2 linked regions of the Homo sapiens genome follow. The protein of the gene in region 1 purifies or fractionates together with the protein of each later gene. This does not show direct contact. Each region holds a gene or a part of one and is shown on either strand. Other genes may lie near its edges.

Region 1 (3,828 bases):
GCTGCTCTGGGGGACTGAGGCAGGAGGATCACTCGAGCCTGGGACCTTGAGGCTGCAGTGAGCCACGATCATGCCACTGCACCGCAGCCTGGATGACAGAGCCAGACGCTGTCTCAAAAAAAAGACTCCAGCACATACCTTCAGTAATATGAATGTGAAATAACAGGACCCATTCCAAAAGCAATACACACAAATTTATCCCATTCTTTTATGTCCCCTTCATTTGCTTGAGTAATGTCCTATTTTTTATGTGCCTCTAGGTGAGTTCATAGCCAATGATCACACATATATCTACTCCTGAAGATACAGGAACCAGATTTTCTCTCAGAAAAAATAATTATTAAAATACCATTACAGTTAACTCAATAAAAGTTTATTTATATCTTTGATGTATAGTCATTTCCTTTTATCGTCTGTCCTGTTGCCTGCTGCCTGCAGCAGCTTTGTATAGCAGTCTCCAAGTCGGGACTCTGATGCCTGATGACACATTAGTATGGTCCAGACGTTCCTTGAAACACTCAGACCATGACATTTGAACATCAAATACATCATTTTTGTCTAAAACATTTTCTGAAATCAACAAAATATCTTTCAAGGTTGTATGTGTTTTGTTTTGGGTGTTTTTTTGTTTTGTTTTGTTTTGCTTTCTACCCATAAAAATGTTAGGAGGTTGGGCACGGTGGCTCATGTCTGTAATCCCAGCACTTCGGGAGGCCAAGGCAGGTGGATCACTTGAGGTCAGGAGTTCGAGACCAGCCTGACCAACGAGGTGAAACCCCGTCTCTACTAAAAATACAAAAAATTAGCTGGGTGTGGAGGTGCACGCCTGTAGTCCCAGCGACTCGGGAGGTTGAAACAGGAGAATCACTTGAACACAGGAGGCAGAGGTTGCAGTGAGCTGAGATCACACCACTGCACTCCAGCCTGGGCACTCAAAAAAAAAAAAAAATGTTACAGGAGGGGTTTTGGTGGTGTTTTTGTTTTTTACATTATAGAGAAAGACATGAGGGGGAAAATGGGAATTAGAGAAAAGAAGAAAAATTAACACTCAGCTTTGCTTCCCTGTTTACCTATATGCCTCTTTCCCATTCCAAACTGTCACAACCACTGTTAGCATAGATGTTTGATTACCTGTTGGCCCTTGGACTTTCAAAATTAAACACAAATTAGAAATAAATTTAAATACCTTCACTACTTTAAAAAGCAAAGAGTCCTCAGGGACTTTTTAAAAATTTATTTATAGTATTTGCTATTCTTTTCTCTTACCTTATTAGGTACAAATCAAGACCTACCAGCTCCTACATTCCATCTTTCAGTATCCAAATCCAGCTGTTTCCTACCCATACATTTACTCTTTAGCATCCTGTATCATGGAAAAACTGCAGGAAATAGACAAGAGAAAACCTGAAAACACTGCTGAGCTTGAGATCTTCCAAGAAGGCATAAAGGTCTTAGAAACACTGGTTACTGTTGCTGAAGAACACCATCGTAAGTGTCAGCACTAAATTCATACTCAGTCTCAACAAAAATCAGAATTTTACTGTTATTTAAATTGCAAAACAATCAGTCACATTATATCTGTATTTCACATTCATTGAAAGGTGTTATGTTAATCCCAAGTATTGATATTATTTAGTATTAATTTAGAAGAGATTGGACGAATTGTTTTCTTTAGTGGGGAAAAATGTATACAGATCAAGTGCATTTGCAGGCTTTTGTTAGAAACATTTATGTCACTGAACTTATATTATTTGTTTACTTTCTAGGCGCTCAGCTGGTGGCCTGTCTTTTGCCCATCCTCATTTCCTTCCTTTTGGATGAAAATTCTCTGGGATCAGCAACTTCCATAATGAGAAATTTACATGACTTTGCTCTACAAAATCTCATGCAAATTGGACCTCAGTATTCATCTGTTTTTAAAAGTTTAGTGGCTTCTTCTCCAGCCCTAAAAGCCCGCCTTGAGGCTGCTATAAAGGGCAATCAGGAAAGTGTCAAAGTCAAGATACCAACATCTAAATATACTAAGAGTCCTGGAAAAAACTCAAGCATCCAATTAAAGACCAGTTTCCTCTGATTTTTTTTTTGGAATAGTAAGCACCTTAATATAATAAATACTTGATCATTGCCTTTGGTGACAAAAGGGACATTGTAGACACAAGTGCCCTTAGAGGTCTAGTTGATTGTTTTACCTTAAATAGCTGTGACTCTTCAAAGTAACAGCATACTTAACATTTTTGTGTGTGTGCGTGGGGTTTGTGTTTTGTTTTGTTTTGTTTTTCTATTTAAAAAGACAATGGAGCTAACTTGCCAGGAATTTTAAGAAAGTGCTAAAGAACTAAACTTACTAAACAATCCACTGCTTTAAAAATGAAATGAATTTCTTCTAACAGTCCATACATATGTGGTATACTTAATACTGTGACAGATATAAATATGACTCTAGTGTAAATTATCTGCACTAATATTGTATCCCAATTGCTGATTTAAAATTCTGCTTTGGCCCGGCACAGTGGCTCATCCCTGTAATTCCAGCACTTTGGAAGGCCAAGGCGGGCGGATCACGAAGTCGGGAGTTTGAGACCAGCCTGACCAACATGGTGAAACCCCGTCTCTACTAAAAATACAAAAATTAGCCGGGTGTGGTGGCACACACCTGTAATCCCAGCTACTCAGGAGGCCGAGGCAGGAAAATCGCTTGAACCTGGCAGGCAGAGGTTGCAGTGAGCCAAGATTGTGCCACTGCACTCCAGCCTGGGCGACAGAGTGAGACTCCATCTAAAAAAAAAAAAAAAAAATTCTGCCTTATTCAGTAATTGTATTAAACTTTCTCTGATTTCTCCAAGAAGATAAAATGATTGGAGAGCTATTTAGGAAACCTGGTCTAGGATTATCCAGTATACAATAGTACAAATTACTTACAGCCTTACAGTGCAACATAAGATTTGGTGTCTATATCATGGTTTTCCACCATCTTTTGGTTTAGTTTATATTGGGTTCAGAAATTGAGTCTTACTCATTTTAAATAGAATAAGCCATTTCCACTATTTTTCAAATGGATTTTTCTGTTTACCTCTGTTCTTACCAATTTTGTTCATTTTCATTTGTGGCAAACATTTGTATCAATGAGTTTTAACCTAGGTTCATATCTACATTGTATTTAGATCAACTATGGGTTTATATAAATGCCAAATTTAGTACAACAAATTTAGGTCATCAGGTGAATACAAGTATTTTTTTTAACAGGAAACATTTTATTATAGAAAAAAGATTAATGATAAAGTCATATTGGTTGAAAAATATTTTTTAACTGTGTTCATGATTGTTGATTCTCCTTCTACTTCAGTGTTATACTGTGTGAATCAAGCACTGTGTCAAAACAGAGCATTTCCCTCTTAAAAATTACAAACCGAAGTGATAGAAGCATGTCAGAATTGAGAAGACATTTTGAAGCAAGAACAATGTGATGTACCTATTTTATTATGTTTGTATATAAATACTATTGTAAATTGTTCAGAGTGAAAACATTTGACAAACTCTAACACTACAATCATTTTTTCTAAATTACATAAATAAAGCTAATTTTCATTATCATTCTTGTATTTTTAAATTATTTTACCAACAAAAGATGGCAGGTTGGTTTCTCTCACATGGATTCCAGAAAATCAGCCTTTTTTCTCAGAAGAGCCCTTTCTTTGGAGCATTATTTGTGATGGTTTAGATTCTCTGTCTCTTCCTAAGTGTCTCTAGGCATTGAGTGTATATTTATTGTTCCCTTTACCTAAAATGTCCTTTTCTCTCCTGTCTTCTGTCTGGTGATTGCCCACTCCT
Region 2 (3,828 bases), on another chromosome or scaffold:
TTGGTCCTGAAGGCTCCAAAGTAGCTAATATTGCATCTTTAAATATATTCTTTACACCTTTTTGTGTGACTTCAAGTAACCTCTGGCTCATGAGCTTATTTGTCCTTGGTAAATTTCTCAATAGTACTCTTTCATTCTACAAGAACACTATAGGATCCTCTGGAGATCAGGACATTAATATAGCAGGTAAAAATCTAACTAATGAAACAGCATTTCTTTTCCAAGAAATCTTTGCCATTGCTTCTGTGTTAGTAATGAGAAAGAGGGGAGAGGAAGAAAGAGGAGGATGAAGAGAGGAAGAAGGAAAAGAAAGAAGCTCTATCCAGCCAAATAAGTGAACCAGAGGTAAAAAGACATAATTTATCACAAATTATGCCTGCTGATTGAACTATGTTTTATTTTGCTGTTTAGCCTAATAAAATGTCCTTGGTATGTGTCAGTCTTTCTAAAGTAGGCTAAGATAATTGTTCGTATTAGGAGCTGCAAGCAATTTAAAAAATGACATGCACCACTTCTAGTGATTCAAAGAGAAAAGAATTATCATGAACAATTACACTCTCCATTCATGTCATGACCTCACCTGGTTTTTGAGGTTGACATTAGCATTTCTTCTTAAAAGGAAGGAAACGATTCTCACATGCCCTCGCCTGCAAGCACAGATCAGGGGCGTGTCTCCATTAAAGCCATCTTGAACGTTGGCATAGCTGCTGTCTTCTTTCACCCACCGCCACACTTGTCCAAAGTCATTCTGATAGGCTGCTTGGCAGATGGGCTGGGTCGGGAAAAACAAAAGCAGGTTTTGAAATACTGGCATAATTAAACCACAAAAACGAAAAAAAAGTCATAACCCAATACATTAAAATTTAAATGTTTTAAAATTGTAATATATTGCTTTGCAGGTGAGATTTTTTGGTCTCAGTTATGCCTAGCTTTAAGTCTAGATCAAGAATTAGCCCATGAGGAACCTCCTACATTTTCCTAAGTTTTCTTGGCACACACTTATGTCCATCAAATGGATGAATAAATAAATGAAATACTACAAATTCAACTCAGTAAGGAAACTATGTATAGTGCTTACAGGTAGGTGGGCCTGTCGGAAAAGCATTCATTTTCTTTACTAAAGATAAAATACCTTTATCTTTATCTTTACTAAAGACAAAATACCTTTATCTTTATCTTTACTAAAGACAAAATACCTTTATCTTTATCTTTACTAAAGATAAAATATCTTTATCTTTAGTAAAGACAAAATGTCTTTATCTTTATCTTTACTAAAGATAAAATGTCTTTATCTTTATCTTTACTAAAGATAAAATAGAAAACAAGCATATGGGGAGGAGTTTAGGGCAGTACTAGTGATGAAATAAGACCTACATAGCACCCTGTATTCAAGGAGCTCAACAGAGCAGAAAAGACAGTTTTTTAGGCAAATAATATACAAATTATATGGTTAACTACACTTGATTAGATGCTGTTTATAAAAAGCATTATACAGAGCTTCACAAGGCACCATGGGAGTTTAATAGCAAGACTTCAGGTAGCATGATCTTGTCCTCTTTCCCTCCTCTGCTCCAGCCTTTCTCGACTTCTGTTCTTCAAAGTTTGGTTGAACCAAACCATGTTTGGTACCTTCCATCTGGGCTTCTGCCCTGAATACTCTCTCTGCATAAAACACACCACCTGCCTTTCTTCTGAATAACACCTAGCTCACCCTTCATGTCATAATTTAATTTTCATTTTATCCAAGAAGTCTTTTCTTACTCCCAACATTCAGTATCTCTCCCTCACAGCAACTGACATACTGTAATTCTTTTCTTAATTATGTACAATCATGTATTTAGGGCTAGCATGAATCAGGAGAGGTTTGAGGCAGTGCTGAGAAGGAAGGCACTGAAGTTCAGGCCGTAAACCCCATTTTATTTACTGCTATTTCTCCAGCATTCAACACAGCACTCAGCACATGGGAGGCAAACACTGAATATTTTTAGACTAATCTTCAGATGATGTCTTTTAAAAAGCATTTAGAGTAATACCTGGCATATGGATGGTGCTTAGTGTATGAAAGTTATCATTATTGCAATTGTCATTCTTTAATAATCAAGTCAAATCCCTGCTGTGTGCCAGTCACAGGTACCAGAGAATAAAATATGTTATCTTATCCATGTAAAATGTATCTGTCAAGTGGGGAAATAGGACAGAGACACACATACACAGAGTAAATGACAAGAAAAAAATTTTTTGGTATGGGTAGGTACATAAGCACCTGTGGAAACTGGGACGTATCAAGGGGAAAGTCAAGTGGGTGTATTTGCTAATAAACTGAGGTTCTAACATAGCCAAATATCACAATAAGTGAACTATGTTATACTCTTAAACCTAAAGGCCTACTCATGAAAGAAACATCCTAACAGAAAATTAACTCAGCAGCAATTAAAGGCAAACTTCTGTACCTTAAAAATGAAATGAACATGATACATGGGCTTTAAGTTTCACTAGAAATGCACAATTTCACAAATCACCTATTCTGTTATCCTGAAGTCTTCCCTTTACTAAGCTTTCCAACAGTTGGGCACTTCAGTGTCTCAGCATACTGTGTGGCTGATGCAGAAAGGACTGGGGCAGTTGAAACACTTGTCTCATGTCAGAAAAACAGGATGTAATTGTGGCTCTGTTACTACCTCCCCCGGTGACTGTGGACAATTCACTTCCCTACTGTATCTCAGTGTCCTCAGTCATTAAATGAAGGAGTAAGGCAGAAGTTCCCTTGGGTTTTCATATTCGATTATTTCTGGGACTCTAGTCTCAACCAACAAATCTTCCACATCACTGCTGGAGTCCAGGGTTATGTCAACACAATAGTGCTTAAATAAAACCTTCAGTGACTTGCCATTGTCCTAGCAGCAATGCCCAGTCATTTGGAGTTCAAAAATAAGTAAAACAAAACTAAATGCAACAAGACAGTGTTAAGTCACCAACTCTTAATTTTTCAATTAAATGTATTTAAAACAATACTATTATTTCATAAAAGATATTTTAACAAATACAAAGATAAATGAAGGGTATTTTAACAAAATATGTAAGAATATAATCACCAGGGGGAAAGCAGTTCTTTATATTGGGTAGATTTAGTTAGCTTTATAGAAAAATTCATTTTATTGTCCTTTTAAAAGATTTTACCATAAACTAGTGAAAATTTAATAATGGAGTGATTAGCAGTGAGCACTACTCATCAAGCATTTGGAAATTGGTGGTCTACCATGAATAGCTTGGAAACAAGTGGCTTTAGAGCTCTTTTTCTCTTTTCTCAAATATTTAAATAACTTAACAACATTTAAAAAACTAGAATATTTCATGTATTAATCTGGCTTTCCAGCTTCTCTTTAAAAATGGAAAGTTTTGGCTGGGCGCGATGGCTTACGCCTGTAATCCTAGCACTTTGGGAGGCCGAGGTGGGTGGATCACCTGAGGTCAGGAGTTCGAGATCAGCCTGGCCAACATGGAGAAACCCCATCCCTATTAAAAATACAAAAATAAAAAAATTAGCAGGGCATGGTGTCTGGTGCCTATAATCCCAGCTACTCTGGAGGCTGAGACAGGAGAATCGCTTGATTCGGCAGTGAGCCGAAATCGCGCCACTTCATTCCAGCCTGGGCGACACAGCGAAACTCTGCCTCAAAAAAAGAAAAAAAAAGAAAGAAAAAAAAGAGAAAGTTTTGCTAACACTGGGCCCATATTCCTGTAGGATACCAAATAACTGGTGCTTAGTGGCAGTGACTCCAATTCTCCACAGTCCCCACCACTCGCCATCACATTACACTGGTTCTCTTC

The links.
Region 2: the proteins of HEATR5A (region 1) and ANKRD22 purify together in Homo sapiens (co-immunoprecipitation; one large-scale study listed by IntAct). This does not show direct contact.

The regions. Positions count from the first base shown.
Region 1 is NC_000014.9:31,291,551-31,295,378, reverse strand, and holds the end of HEATR5A (HEAT repeat-containing protein 5A), read left to right. Parts: intron 1-1,274; coding exon 1,275-1,488; intron 1,489-1,766; coding exon 1,767-2,074; 3' UTR 2,075-3,591; downstream 3,592-3,828.
Region 2 is NC_000010.11:88,831,255-88,835,082, forward strand, and holds part of ANKRD22 (ankyrin repeat domain-containing protein 22), read right to left. Parts: intron 773-3,828; coding exon 581-772; intron 1-580.